2 separate regions of the Homo sapiens genome follow, and region 2 is linked to region 1. The links come from fine-mapping of genetic effects on gene expression. Tissue or cell type: lymphoblastoid cells. Region 1 holds a variant in brackets; the other region holds the start of a gene. All regions are shown on one strand. Distances are between the middles of the regions.

What was found. PIP is the estimated chance that this variant, and not a neighbour inherited with it, causes the effect.
Region 2: NEK4 starts here. The variant in region 1 is fine-mapped to the expression of NEK4 in lymphoblastoid cells (GEUVADIS, PIP 0.95).

Annotation. Positions count from the first base shown.
Region 1 is chr3:52,567,187-52,575,290 of GRCh38, reverse strand. All of the region lies in intron 24 of PBRM1 (polybromo 1), which reads left to right. Among named protein-coding and RNA genes, the nearest start is that of UQCC5, 35 kb to the right of the region's middle. RefSeq lists a silencer at 2,791-2,991. The variant TC/C (reference allele first, on the strand shown) is at 3,161.
Region 2 is chr3:52,766,911-52,775,014 of GRCh38, reverse strand. It overlaps NEK4 (NIMA related kinase 4), which reads left to right and starts at 4,075. Exons shown (of 16, transcript NM_003157.6): 1 at 4,075-4,361; 2 at 6,411-6,677. The coding sequence starts at 4,269. RefSeq lists enhancers at 3,944-3,993, 3,781-4,298 and a silencer at 4,154-4,263.

The sequences.
Region 1 (8,104 bases):
TTATAGGTTATGGTTGTTTGTTCAGTGACTCTTCTAAACGTTTGTTTGTTTGTTTGTTTGTTTGGTTTGTTTTAAAGATTGTATTTTTGGCTGGGCACAGTGGCTCACACCTTTAATCCCAGCACTTTGGGAGGCTGACATGGGCAGGTCGCTTGAGCCCAGGAGTTCGAGACCAGCCTGGGCAAGATGGCGAAACCCTGTCTCTACAAAAAAATACAGAAATTATCCAGGTGTGGTGGTCTATATCCATGGTCCCAGCTACTCAGGAGGCTGAGGTGGTAGGATCACTTGAGCCCAGGGAGGTCGAGGCTGCAGTGAGCCATGATCATGCCACTGCACTCCAGCCTGGGCAACAGAGTGAGACCCTGTCTCAAAAAATAAAAGATTTTTGTTGTTGTTGTATATGGTTACTACAGTCTCTGTTCTATAAGCTTAGTGATCAGCCAGTGATTTGACAGAGGTTTTCGTAAATACGTGGAGCCAATAAAACCATAAAACTCCCAGTCTTCACTGCTGACTTCTCTGCGTATGGTGGAGCACACCTTCAACACTCAGCCATGCAGATTACAACTCTGCTTTGCCTTTACTTCCTACTTGTGCAGAGCTTGAAGGTCAGCCAGAAATGAGATCTTAGGGCCTTCTTAGGTCCTTTCTGAGCATGTACACTATTGTTGGCATGTGTGTGGCCTTCTAGGCTCCCAGGAATGTGTGGAAACTTTTCAAAACCCTTATTGGCCAAAGCATCTCACTCCTCATCTTTTCCTCTGAGGCCTTTTGTCATATCTACTGTTGGTCCTGACTGATACCCTTTGCCCCAGCCGGCAACAGCTGGTTCATTTGACTTTAAATGTGCTGTGATTTGAATGTTTGTGCCCCCTTCGAAATTCATGACTTAAAGTGTAATCCCTAGTGCAACAGTGTTGGGAAGTGGGGACTTTTAGGAGATGTTTAGGTCATGAGGGCTTGTCCTCGTGAATACAATATTGCTTTTATAAAAAGGGCTCATGTAAATGGGTCTGCTCTGTCTGAATGGGTTTGCTGTCTCTTACACTCTTGCCCTCTGCCTTCTGAAATATGATGACATAGCAAGAAAGCCCTTGCCAGATGCTGGCACCTTTATCTTGGACTTTCCAGCCTCCAGAACTGTGAGAAAACTGTTCTTTATAAATTACCCAGTCTGTGGTATTCTGTTATAGCAGCACAAACAAACTAAGACAAAATGTTTTTGACAAAAAAACCTAGACACTTCTCCACCAAGGGAATTCCAAGCTAAGCACAATAAAGGCAAGCACTTTGCATTAGTGTTTAGAAAGCTGCCTGACAGGTCAAAACAGATGACCACAGTTCTTGGAGCATGGAGCTGTTTTGCTTCCTCTATCACCACAATCTTACACCAGGAATAGAGGCTGCCATCTTCAAGGCTGCCACTGAGACAGAAAGTAAGGAATGGAGTGAGGGTAAGTTAAAATGCCACAGAGCTTTCCTGCCAAGTTTCAGTCACTTTTTTTCTTAATTAAGCATTTGCTTGGTTGCTGTAAACCTTTGACTATCTTACAGAATTCCAATAAAGTTTATTCTGCTTTTTTCACTGTTTCTGTGAAGTAATGGCCCTTAGAGCTCACTACTCCTCCATATTCACTGACATAACTTGGAGTAATTTCTTTCTAAAGATGCCTGTTAGAATGTGTTACATTCTGGCCGGGCATGGTGGCTCATGCCTGTAATCCCAGTACTTTGGGAGGTTGAGGCAGGCAGATCACCTGAGATTAGGAGTTAAGAGACCAGCCTGGCCAACGTGGTGAAACCCCATCTTTACTAAAAATACAAAAATTAGCCGGGCGTGGTGGTGTGCACCTGTAATCCCAGCTACTAGAGAGGCTGAGGCAAGAGAATTGTTTGAACCCGAGAGGTGGAGGTTGCAGTGAGCTGAGATCAAGCCACTGCACTCCAGCCTGTGGCTGGAGACAGAGCAAGAGACTCTATGTAACAAAAAAAAAAAAGAAAGAAAGAAAATGTGTTGCATTCTACAGTTTATCTACCAGTTTTATATCCAGGATCTCATTTAATTTTCAACATGACCCTGGAAGAAAGATGCTGATATTGTCAGAAAGGTGAAGTTACTACCCAGGGAGTGGGCCAGAACTAAAACCTAGGTTTTCCTAATTCTTCTTTAGTTAGTCTACAGCTAGCTGGCACACTTTTGAGAATTAAAGGAGGTGCCAGTAATATCAGGTAGGACAACAGGCATATAATGAAATATAAGTAACTTCATCTTGAGATAAAACCCAAAAGAAAATGCATCTAGTAATCACAAAGTGGGATTTCAGCCTAGCTTGTGGAATTCACTGTCCCCAGCCTCCAAGGAAAAAGGGTTTTGTTATATAAGCTTTAGAGAATTTATAATTTCATTGTATTAACTCTAACCACTATTAAATGTAAATCATATTTTGCACTTTTTTGTGTCTCTGAAATAGAAGTTTTGAAGATAATTAGATGAGGTGTATCATTTTTTCATCTTCTGTTACATACAAAGGAGACAATCCTGTTTTTCCAACGGTTATGTTCTTTTTTCAGTTTCGTTGAAGAATTGTTTTCATTTACTTAAACAGTAATCAAGCTGGGCACAATGGCTCACGCCTATAATCCCAGCACTTTGGGAGGCTGAGGCAGGTGGATCACTTGAGATCAGGAGTTCAAGACCAGCCTGGCCAACATGGTAAAACCCCATCTCTACTAAAAATACAAAAAAAAATTAGCCAGCTGTGGTGGTGCATTCCTGTAATCCCGGCTACTCAGAGGCTGAGGGAGGAGAATCGCTAGAACCTGTGAGGGAGAGGTTGCAGTGCGCTGAGATCACTCTACTGGATTCCAGCCTGAGTGACAGGGTGAGACTCCGTCTCAAAAAAAAAAAGAACTTAAACAGTAATCAGATGGCCACATGTGGCAGACAGTACCTCTACCCTTAACCCCTTAGGTGATAAAATTTCCAGGAACCTGGGCTCTTGAAACATGCCGATTCCTAATTTATTTGCAGGTTTTGTTCCCTTCACAGTAGATTTTTATAACGTTTCATTAATTTAAAAACTGTCCTCAGTAAGGCAAGGAAGATAAAAGATCTAAAGATTTGAAAGGAAAAACAAAAGGGCCTTTTTTTTTTTTT[TC/C]AAAAATATTAGGTATGTAGAAAATCCAAGAGATATTCAGATAAACTATTAAAATTAGTAAATGAAAATATGAAGTTTTTTTTGTTTTGTTTGAGACAAGATCTCGCTTTGTTATCCAAACTGGAGTGCAATGGTACAATCATAACTCACTGCAGCCTCCAACTCCTGGGCGCAAGCAATCCTCCCATCTCAGCCTTCCAAGAAGCTGGGACTATAGGGATGTACCACCACTCCCAGCTAATTTTTTTTTTTTTTTTTTTTTTTTTTTTTTTTGGGGAGATGAGGTATCCCTCTTGCTCAGGCTGGTCTCAAACTCCTGGCCTCAAGCATCCTCCCTGCTCAGCCTCCCCGAAAGTGCTGGGATTATAGGCATGAGCTACCTTACCTAGCCCCAATATTTCTATTTCTGTATCTGTATCCCATCAGTGAGCAATTAGAAAATTATTACCATTTGCATTCAATACCTAGGAATAAATCTTTTTTTTTTTTTTTTTTTTTTTTTTGAGATGGAGTTTCGCTCTTGTTGCCCAGGCTGGAGTGCAATGGTGCAATCTCGGTTCACCGCAACCTCCACCTCCTGGGTTCAAGCTATTCCCCTGCCTCAGCCTCCTGAGTAGCTGGGACTACAGGCATGCGCCACCATGCCAGGATAATTGTTTGTATTTTAGTAGAGACGGGGTTTCACCATGTTGGCCAGGATGGCCTTGATCTCCTGACCTCGTGATCCACCTTCCTCAGTCTCCCAAAGTGCTGGGATTACAGACGTGAGCCACCACGCCTGGCCAATCTTTTTTTTTTTTTTTTTTGGAGACAGTGTCTCGTTCTGTCGTCCAGGCTGCAGTGCAGTGGCACAATCTCGGCTCACTGCAACCTCCACCTCCTGGGTTCAAGCGATTCTCCTGCCTCAGCCTCCCGAGCAGCTGGGACCACAGGCGTGTGCCACCATGCCCAGCTAATTTTTGTATATTTAGTAGAGACAGCATTTCACCATGTTGACCAGGATGGTCTCAATCTCTTGACCTCGTGAGGCGCCTGCCTCGGCCTCCCAAAGTGCTGAGATTACAGGCATGAGCCATGGCACCCAGCCAGGAATAAATCTTTAAAAGATAGCCAACGTGGTAGCTCATGCCTGTAGTCCCAACACTTTGAGAGGCCAAGATGGGAGAGTCGCTTGACACCAGGAGTTCAAGACCAGCCTGGACAACAGAAGGAAACTCTACCAAAAAAAAAAAAAACGAAGAAACAAAGATGTGTAGGGCACCTGCACACGCATGTGCACACATGTGCGCACACACACACAACTATAAGAAAATTATTGAGAAATTGAAGACATAAGTAAATGAAAGTTATCCATCATATTTATAGCTGGAAAATTCAATATTAAAAAGATGCCAGTTCCCCCCAAATTGATCTATTGGTTCGTTCCAATTCCAATCAAAATCCAGCAGGTCTTGATAATTTTTTTATACTTTATTAAATGAAGTTTTCTAAACTTTCATCTTTTCCCTGTCTTTTGGGGGCTTGGTAGGAGCTCCAAGTCAGGACACAGAGATACCACCTCCATTCCAAAGCCACCAATCACTTTTACTCTTTGGTTGTAAGCAGAATTATTATTTTTTCCTAATGTCTATTTTTCCTTCTATAAAATATGGAAAATTGTAATTATCCCTTTTCTGAATTAAAAGGCCTTTGAATTATGTAAATAAAAGTGCTGTGTAAGTTCAAAGCAGTGATAGTAATTGTAGCTATTTTAAGCTTTGGAAATGTTTCTGACCTGTTTTTCATATACATGTTTAGTAAGTTGTTAGCTATGAACATTCCTGTTAAGGTCAAGAGCAAAATAGGGATGTTCTGGCTGGGTGCGATGGCTCATGCCTGTAATTCCAGCACTATGAGAGGCCAAGGAGGGCGGATCACCTGAGGTCAGGAATTCGAGACCAGCCTGGTCAGCATGGTGAAACTCTGTCTCTACTAAAAATACAAAAATTAGCTGATGTGGGCGTGGTGGTGGGTGCCTTTAATCCCAGCTACTGGGGAGGCTGAGGCAAAAGAATCACTTGAACTTGGGAGGTGGAGGTTGCAGTGAGCCAAGATCGAGTCACTACACTGCAGCCTAGCGACAGAGTGAGACTCCGTCTCAAACAAAAAACAAAAAAAGAAAAGAAACAAAATAGGGATGTCCTTATCACACTTATTTAACATTGTTCTAGAGGTACTAGCCAGTGGAGTTAGAAGAAACAGAAGTCTAAAATAAGAAAAGTAAGGAGGTGAAAATTCAAGAGCATCAACTAAGAAATCATGGCAAACAGTAAGAGAAGTGAGATGATTGAATATAAATAAATAACAAACCTATTATCTTAAAAGATTCAGTACTAATAAAATACCTTAGATAAACTTAACAAGATATGCCACATCTGTATGAAAAAAGTTTTAAAATGCTATTGAATGAATGCTTGAACAAATTGCAAAGCAGTACCATATGCCTAGGTAGGTTTCAATGTCATAAAGATGTCCATCCTCCCTAAATTAATCTTTAATATGATCCCATTAGATATACCAGTGGGAATTTGCTTGTGAGGAAGTTGATACTATGTGAACTCATTTTAAAAATCATATTGAAGGCCGGGCGCGGTGGCTCATGCCTGTAATCCCAGCACTTTGGGAAGCCAAGGCGGGCGGATCACGAGGTCAGGAGATCAGGACCATCCTCATTAACATGGTGAAACCCCATCTTTACTAAAAATACAAAAAGTTAGCCGAGCATGGCGGCGGGCGCCTGTAGTCCCAGCTACTTGGGAGGCTGAGGCAGGAGAAGGGGGTGAACCGGGGAGGCGGAGCTTGCAATGAACCGAGATCGCGCCACTGCACTCCATCCTGGGAAACAGAGCAAGACTCCATCTAAAAAAAAAAAAAAAATCATATTGAAAAAGAAACTTAGAATCGGGTGCAGTGGCTCACTCCTGTTATCAATCCCAGCACTTTGGGAGGCCGAGGTGGGTGGATCACTTGAGCCTAGGAGTTTGAGACCAGCCTGGGCAAGATGGCAAAACCTCATTTCTACAAAAAGTACAGAAATTAGCTGAGTGGCACTTGTCTGTAGTCCCAGCTACCCGGAGTAGGGGGCTGAGGTGTGAGGATCGCTTGAGCCCAGGAGGTTGAGGCTGCAGTGAGCAGCTGTCATCTCACCACTGCACTCCAGGCTGGGCAACAAAGTGAGACCCTGTCTCAAAAAAAGAAAAAGGAACTCAGGAAAATTCTGAAAAGTATAGTGAAAGGGGATCTATCCTTACCAGATATTAAAACATTATAGCACTACAATAATTAAAACTATATGATATATGAGTAAACAGGTTATTTGAACAAAATAGAAAGTTTAGCAAATATATGGTAAAAGTGGCATATCAGGTAAGTGGGGAAAGAAGTATTTTTCTCCAAATGGTGTTTGGAAATTCAATAACCATTTGGAAAAATAAAATTGTAGCCATATCCCACATCTTAACTTCAGGATAGATTTCCAGATGAATTATAAATTTAAATAAACATAAAATTAAACAACAAAGATACCAAAAGAAACCATGAGAAAGAAATTTTGTTAATCTCTGACATAAAAGCCAGAACTCATACAATAAAATACTGATAAATTCAGCTGTATAAAAATGGAAAATATCTATATGACCAAAACTGGCAAAAACAAAAATGACAATCTTGAGAAAATATTTGCAATGTTTATCATAGACAAAGATCTGATTTTCCTCATAGATGAAGAGCTCCTATAAAGCAATTAGATAAAGATCAACATCCAGCAGGGAAATAGGCAAAGAAAATAAAGGAGAGCAGAAATAAATTACTAGGGCCCAGTGTGATGACTCACACCTGTAATGCCAGCACTTTGGGAGGCCAAGGTGGGTGGATCACCTGAGGTCAGGAGTCGAAGACTAGCCTGGCCGACATGGTGAAACCCTGTCTGTACTAAAACTACAAAAATTAGCTGGACATGATGGTAGGCATCTATAGTCCTAGCTACCTGGGAGACTGAAGCAGGAGAATCACTTGAACCCAGGAGGCAGAGGTTGCAGTGAGCCAGAATCGCACCACTGCGCTCCAACCTGAGTGACAGAGCGAGACTCCATCTTAAAAAAAAAGAAACTACCAGTGATTCTTAAACAAATGAAAATATACCCGGCTGGGCACGGTGGTTCACACCTGTAATCCCAGCAGTTTGGGAGGCTGAGGGAGGCGGATCATCTGAGGTCAGAAGTTCGAGACCAGCCTGGCCAACATGGTGAAACCCCATTTCTACTAAAAAAAAAAAAAAAAAAAAAACACAAAAATTAGCCAGGCATGGTGGCACACGCCTGTAATCCCAGCTACTCGGGAGGCTGAGGCAGGATAATTGCTTGAACCTGGGAGGCAGAGGCTGCGGTGAGCTGAGATCAAAAAAGAAAAGAAAAGAAAATATACCCAACCTTGGCCATTAGAGAAATGCTAGTTAAAGCTACCCAGGTGCTTTTCTTCTTTTCTTTTTCATTTTTCTTTTTTTCTTTTTTCTTTTTTTTTTTTTTTTGAGATTACCTATCAAATTGTCAAAGATCCAGAAGACATTTCTCACTAGTTGACAAGAGCATGAGGAAATGGTATTTACCTACTTTGTGGGTAGTCTGTGAATTAGGACACCCTTTATGGAAGGCAGTTTGATAATACCTACAAAAATTTAAAAAGTGTATACATACCCTTTAACCCAGCTTTTATAGTTCTAGAAATTTATGCTTCAGATGTATTCACCTACGTGCAAATTGATATGTCTTAAATTATTTATTTCAGCATTATTTAGCGTCAGCAGAAGAGCAAACATTGGGAAACAACATAGATACCCATCAATAGGGAACTAGTTGAATAAACTTAGTACATTCATACAAGCCGTGACCTCCAAGACATATTATTTT
Region 2 (8,104 bases), 200 kb before region 1:
GGGTGGGAGATACTTAAGATATTTTAAGCAAGGGTGTGATGAGTTCAAGACTGGGCTGTTGAGAGATGGCTAGCACCAAGCCTGGTCCATGTAAAGTGCTAGAAGCATGTTTGCACAGGGGGAGGGTGGACAGGAGATGGGGAGAGCTAACTATGACCTGTGCCTGTCATGCTTCTTAGCATCACGTCCGAATTCATTTACTGCTCACAACTCCCCACAAGAGACAGATATTATTGTTACTATTATCCTCATGGTACAGAGAAAGAGACGTTGGCCCACCATATGCATGTGGGAGGTGGGGGCCAGGGTGGACAGAAAGCAGCTATGGTTGCTGAGGATTGAGAATGGGGAGTGTAGCTGTGCTGCTGGTGCCGGTGGGACAGCACATGGGCCCAGACCTGCTCTGAGCGCCACCCACACACAGCCAACTGTCTGCTTGATGTGCCCACAGCCCCTCCATCTGGTATGTCCAAACTGAACTCCTGACCTTTGTCTCCTCCTCCCCACACCCCGTTACTAAGCCAGATCTTCCCCCTGTTGTCCACTCCAGTCAAGGCCACCGCCATCTAGTTGGCCATCCAAGCCAGAAGGCTGGGTGGCATCCTGGGTGCCTCAGTCTCCTTGACCACCTACCCCACCTCCCACCCTCTGAATATCCCTCTAATCCATTAACTTCTCTCCCCATCCCCCGTCACCACCTAGTTCAAGCTGCCCTCATCCCTCATTTAGACGGCTCATCTCCTCCTTCTGCTCTGCTCCAGGCAGCAGCCAGAGTCACCATTTAGAAAGGTCAGTCTGCCGCAGGCCTTTCCCTGTCTCGCACACCCTATCCTGAGTGGTATGGCCCCTGCTGACCCCTCTATGTCACCTAGCCCATGGCCCCTCTGAGTCTCTCAGCTTCAACTGCAGAGACTTCTTTTAGATCCAGGTAGGCAGGTGCTTCTCCATTCATTCATTCAGCAAGCGGCAATTCCTTCATTTATACCTGCTGGGTTTAGGGTGTTGAAGCAGACAGGCCTGGCCTCGTCCTCAGGGAGTTCACATTGCGGTGTGGAGGTAAAGTCACAAAATGAATCCACTGGATCTTAGCACATGTTGCTCCTCTGCCTGAAAAAGTTTTTGTTTAAACTTCCACTCATGCGGTGCTTGCTTGGGGCAACCTCTCCTGGATGGCCAGGCTGGGCCTGGCGGCTTTTCTGAACAGTACTGACCTCAGTTGGCAAGGGTAGCTTGTTAGTATGCATGGCCGTCTCCCTCTTCGACAGTAAGCCCCACATGGGCAGGCCCTTGTCTGTCTTGTTCATAGTTGTCCTCCAGGTCCAGGCTAGTAGACCCTTGCTAAATGTCTGTAGAATGAATGATAGGTTTTTTTTTTTTTTTTTTTTTTTAGAAGGAGTATTGCTCTGTCGCCCAGGCTGGAGTGCAGTGACATGATCTTGGCCCAATGCAATCTCCGCCTCCCGGGTTCACGTGATTCTCATGCCTCGGCCTCCTGAGTAGCTGGGATTACAGGAGCAGTGTGCCATAATTTTTTATTGTGGTAAAATATACAAAACATAAAATTTATTATTTAACCATTTTTAAGAATACAGTTCGGTGGCATAAGTACATTCATGTTTTGCATCCATCACCACCATCCATCTCCAGGACTTTTTCATTTTCCCCAGCTAAAACTCTGCACCCATTAAACACCAACCACCAATTCCCTCCTCTCTCCAACAACTGGCAACCACCATTCTACTTTCTGAATCTATGACTTTGACTACTACAGGTACCTCACATAAGCGAAATCATACTTTTGTCCTCTGTGACTGCCTTATTTTGTTTAGCATAATGTCCTCAGGGGTCGTCCATGTTGTAGCATGTCAGAACATCCTTCCTTTTTAAAAATTTATTTATTTTGAGACAGAGTCTCACTCTGTCACTCAGCTGGAGTGCAGTGGCAGGATCATGGCTCACTGCAGCCTCAACCTCCGAGGCTCAACTGATTCTCCCACCTCAGCCTCCCAGGTAGCTGGGACTACAGGCATGCGCCACCACACCCAGCTAATTTTAAAAATTTTTTGTAGAGAAGGGGGTCTCACTGTGTTTCGTAGGCTGGTCTCAAGTGATCCTCCCACCTTGGCCTCTCAAAGTGCTGGGATTAGGTGTGAGTCATAGTGTGTGGCCTCTAGAGCACTAACTTTAAAAAGCTACAATTACAAATCCTTCCTCTGTCCCTCTGAGATATATACCTATGTATTTCCTACAACCTAGGAATGTCTTTCTCAAGGACCTGAAATCCATTCCTTTGGAATGTAATCATCATAAAGGTAGGGCTCATGTCTCCCAGTCTATGTGGGAGAATAGAATCCTAACTTCCCTAATTGCCAGCTAGCAGACACAGTTGGCCTAATCACATTTACGCTAAGCACTCCTTTTAATTTTTCACTTCCCAGACTCTAAGTGAGCCCCTGCATGCTCCCCTGCCTACTCCCTTATTCTTCCTTTGGAATGCCCAATCACCCCTGCGCAAATGGAATGGAGTTCAGCTGCTTCCCCTACTGTCAGTAGTTACTGAATAAAATCTATTTTCATCATTTTAATGCCTGGCTTTGTTTATCTTTAATAATATCATTAACTAGAGTTCAATCTTTATTTATGGTTCTTTTTGTTTGGTTTTCTAGTGAAGATGAAATTGCTTTGAGTAAAATGTGCAAATACTAAATGTACCATTAGATAATTTTGACAAATTCATACACCCAAATCTCCTATCAAGATATATATCAAGGATGAGGAGAAATTTGAACCCCTGTGGATTGCTAATGGGAATGTAAAATGGTTCAGCTTGCTGTAAAAAATGGTGTGGTGGTTTCTCAATACATTAAACTAGAATTAGCATATGATCCAGCAATTTCACTTCTGAGTGTATACCCAAATGAATTAAAAAGAAAGCAGGGACTCAAACAGATATTCGTACACCCATGTTCATAGCCGAATTATTCACAATAGCCAAAAGATGGAAGCTATCCGTGTCCATGACTGCATGAATGGATAAACAAATTGTGGTGTATACATATAATGGAATATTATTTGGCCATAAAAAGGAAAGAGGCCAGGCACGATGGCGCACACCTGTAATAACGGCATTTTGGGAGGCCAACGTGGGTGAATTGCTTGAGCCGAGGAGTTCAAGACCGGTCTGGGGAACATAGTGACACCCTGTCTCTGAAAAAAAATAAAATAGGATTAGCCAGGCATGGACGTGTGTGCCTGTAGTTGGGAGGATGGCTTGAGCCCAGGAAGTCTAGGCAGCAGTGAGCACCATTGCACCACTGCACTCCAAGCTGGGTGGCAGGGCGAGACCCTGTCTCAAAAAAAAAAAAAAAAAAAAAAAAGGAAAAAAAGGAAGCGCTCTGGGAAAGGGAGGCTTTGGCTGGAACAAATGGTGAATTCTTTTGGCACCCCTGAGCTTTCTTGGGCAGGCATTTTAAAGGGGCCTAGGCCCACCTAGAGATCCGCCCTTAGGCTGTTAACTTAGCATGATGCCATGTTAGAGTTTAGTCAAGTCTCTTAGTGCAGTGGTTAGGGTAGTCGTTAAATGCTGAGGAGTCTTTGTAGTTCTCAATTAGCAGGCGAGTTTTTAGGGATGAAAGGTACTGATAATTTACTTTGAATGTATCAAAAAATAGGATGGATTGCTGGATGCAGAGACGGCATGTGATAAAGCGGATACAGCAAATGTTACTGGTAGAGAGTCTGTCACCCAGTCATTAGAACATGAGCTCCAGGAGGGCAGGGACTTTGTTGGCCTGGCACATAGGCGGTCAACAAATATTTGCAGAATGAACGAACAATACTTGTAACGGCCTTAGGACAAACAAGTGCACAAAAAGAGGAAGCTTTCCCTGACTCTGTTGTGGCGGGGATCCGGACGGTGGAACGGACGCACAGAAAGTGCGCGGAGCCTGGCGGAGTCGCTCTGGCCTCCTGGAGCCTCTGCTCTATGGCGGGTCCTCCCGGGGCTGCGGAACCTCTCTGGCCGCTCGTGGCGTCCGCTCTATGGCCGTCCTTTGGGGACGCAGGAGCATGCGCAGAACTGCTCCCGGCCCGGATCGCTATGGCAGCGGCGTCGTCGCGGGCCGGGCCCCAGCAATCCCGCCCGGGCCCGGCTGCCTCAACAGCCGCCCCCACTGCCCCCTCTCGGGCATGAACCGAGCTTCTTGTTGCCGCCCGCTGCCCTACCCGCCGCTGCCGCCGCATCCCGACTCTGGGCCAGCGCTGGGAACATGCCCCTGGCCGCCTACTGCTACCTGCGGGTCGTGGGCAAGGGGAGCTATGGAGAGGTGACGCTTGTGAAGCACCGGCGGGACGGCAAGCAGGTCTGCAGGGGTGGGGCCCGGCAAGGGGCGGGGGCGGGCAGAAGTGCGCCGAGGGCGCCGACCGGTAGATTAGGTCGGGGGTGGTCGCAAGAGGCTCATCTCGGATGGCGTTTCCTCAGGGAAATGGTCCCAGACCAAGACGAGGCCTGGCCTCCCTGTAATATGCGCCCAGAACTACTTCTACTTCTTTGTTGTGTTAAATTTTTTTCCTTTTAATTTTCATTTTCTTTAATTACAATTCTAAGTTTTATGTAAAAATTTTCAGTCTCTGCCTATCTACTTCTTTGTTGTACTAATTGGCATGCGTGATCTACACACCTTTCTCCCAACCCCGATACTCTCATGAGAGCCGGTATCATGCATTCCCAGGACTTAATACAGCGCCTAGCAAGCATTATTCCTTGAATGAAGGGCCCCAAACGTCTCTACTGTAGACTGCTGGATTCACTTAAAACTCGACTCATTTTCTTCCCGCCAAACCTTCTCTCATGTCTTCCGTTTCAGTGAATAGTGACACCAACCCACCAGTTGCCCAAGCCGGACACCTGGAGTCATTTTTAAGCCTCCCCACGCACCCCAACACTGATTATATTCATCTATCACTAAGACAATAGGCCTCCTCTCATCTCTACTGCTACCACCCCAATCCAGGACACCCTGTTGTCTCTAGCAAAGCTATGGCCACGGTTTCCCAACTGGTCGCCGCCACTTGACTTGCTTTTCTCCAATCCATCACTTTCACTGCAGCCTCAGTGATCTTTCTCAAATTTAAATCTGATGTTGTCACTCCTCTGTTTAAAACACTTTATCCCATTACTCTCAGGATAATGAACCAATTATTCAATGTGGTTTATTAATAGGGTGACAATATAATGTACAAACTGGGACAATTTTGAAACTGAAAGGCATTATTAATAGTTACACCAGGACAGTAGGACTGCTCCAGGCAAGCTGAGAAGAGATGTTCCCCCTAAATATAGGGCCCAATTGCCTGTTCTTCCTTGTCTCTGGTGCTAGTTGCTTTGCGTGGAACACAAGCTCATGCATAAGAAATTTATTCAGTAGGCATTGGGGGAATCATTGGATTTTGGGGCTGATGATAGGGAACTAGCAATAGCTAGTTATTTGAGCTTTAGTTTACACTTCACAAAACACATTTATCTATGTGTTGAAGAAATGAATTGTATGGTCTTTGAAATGATTGAGGGCAATGTATTAGGTATTAGAGGCTATTGATTTCTTTTAAGTGTGAATAATTTTGTATGCTGAAGATCAGTGACTATTAAACTTATGGGGCCATGGATCCCTTTGAGTATCTAACGTAATCCACAGACTATTCTGTCTGCAAATGTATAGTCAAGCTATATTTTATTCACCTTTTTGGGAGAGCTTAGATATTAAGGAATTTCTTTTTTTATTTTTTATTTTTTTTGAGACAGAGTCTTGCTCTGCCTCCCAGGCTGGAGTGCAGTGGTGCGATGTTGGCTCACTGCTGCAACTACTGCCTCCCAGGTTCAAGCAATTCTCCTGTGTCAGCCTCCCGAGTTGCTGGGACTATGGGTACACACCACCACGCCGGGCTAATTTTTGTATTTTTAGTAGAGACAGGTTTCACCATGTTGACCAGGCTGGTCTTGAACTCCTGACCTCAGGTGATCCACCCGCCTCACCCTCCCAAAGTGCTGGGATTACAGGTGTGAGCCACTGTGTATGGCCAGATATTAAGGAATTGCTAACACAGGTTTTATAATTGATCCAATGGTATGTTATCTTGAACTCACTTTTTTTAGTCATTAATGAAATTGTGAAATGCAGATGGGAAAGGTAATTTTTGTGGCCCTACACTGCTATAAATCTAACTTATAAGAAGTATCAATAATAGCAAATATTTTCCCCGATTTTGTGCTTGGTGAAAAACAAAATGAATAGGTTATCTGACAGGCTCCACAAGGTTGGTTTTGAGGGTATTCTTGAGAGCCCTTAGATAACTCTGAGGCCACAAATCTTACGTTTATTTGCACATTGTAAAAATACATGGTTTGTTTTTAGTATGTCATCAAAAAACTGAACCTCCGAAATGCCTCTAGCCGAGAGCGGCGAGCTGCTGAACAGGAAGCCCAGCTCTTGTCTCAGTTGAAGCATCCCAACATTGTCACCTACAAGGAGTCATGGGAAGGAGGAGATGGTCTGCTCTACATTGTCATGGGCTTCTGTGAAGGAGGTGATTTGTACCGAAAGCTCAAGGAGCAGAAAGGGCAGCTTCTGCCTGAGAATCAGGTGGTAGAGTGGTTTGTACAGATCGCCATGGCTTTGCAGGTACTGTGTAGACTAATAGCATCCTAGCTTGTTCCCAGATGGCAAGAAGATGGCAGGTGTATTTTAGGAAAATTTTTCTTCAGATACTTACATATAGAAATGTATTTTTTGGAAAATTCATTTGTGAAGTTGACCCAGTCACTCTTTCTGTAGCATTGGAACTTTTCTAAGTAAGTGATACCTATATTAAAATAGACATAGATTTCATGTCTGATTGCAGGGGAAGCCCACTCAATTACCATTTATAGCAAAGTCAATTTTAAGGACCCTGAGGCAACCAAGAGCATAGAGTGACTATGTTTGTTATCCATTGGTCAGTCGTGTCATGCTGAAAGGTGGCTAGGCTAATTGATATGCCCAGTGATTTCATCTGTCAGTCTGCTGGGGTACAGTAGATGGGAATGCAAAACAAGTTTTCTTTTTTTTATTTTTTAGAATTGGGCAGCACATCATTCCTTAAGATGGAATAAGTGTTCCTACAAGTTTGTGTTTTAATATGCATATAACTCAAAAGCGAGACGTTTATGAAATACTATTTTGGAACTGGGTAGACTTGTCCAGAATTAATTGACCATGTTTAAATTCTGAGATACTTTCTCTCTTTTTTTTTTTTTCTTTTGAGACGGAGTTTTGTTTTTGTTATCTAGGCTGGAGTGCAATGGCACGATCTCGGCTCACTGCAACCTCCACCTCCCAGGTTCAAGCGATTCTCCTGCCTCAGCCTCCCAAGTAGCTGGGATTACAGGCGCCTGCCACCATACCTGGCTAATTTTTTTTTTTGTATTTTTAGTAGAGATGGGGTTTTACCATGTTGGCCAGGCTGGTCTCGAACTCTTGACCTCAGGTGATCCACCTGCCTCGGCCTCCCAAAGTGCTGGGATTATAGGCGTGAGCCACCACGCCCGGCTGAGATACTTTCTCTAAATAAAAATGCTCTTGCTGTACTTGAAAATATTATTAAGCTGAGGATTTCATGGGTCTGAGAGGACTGTGCGTCTGACTTTGTATAAGTTGTCCTACCATCAGTGGAGTTTGTAAGCATTGTTTTTTTTTTAAGACAGAGTGTCACTGTCGCCCAGATTCGAGTGCAGTGGCACAATCGTGGCTCATTCCAACCTCCACCTCCTGGGTTCAAGTGATTCTTGTGCCTCAGCCTCCCAAGTAGCTGGGATTATAGGCGTGCGTCACCATGCCCAGCTAATTTTTGTATTTTTTTAGTAGAGATGGGGTTTTGCCATGTTGCCCAGGCTGGTCTTGAACTCCTGGCCTCAAGTGATCCGCTCACCTCGGCCTCCCAAACTGCTGAACACTGCGCCTGGCCTGTAAACATATTTTTTTTTTTTTTGAGACGGAGTCTCGCTCTGTCGCCCAGGCCGGACTACGGACTGCAGTGGCGCAATCTTGGCTCACTGCAAGCTCCGCTTCCC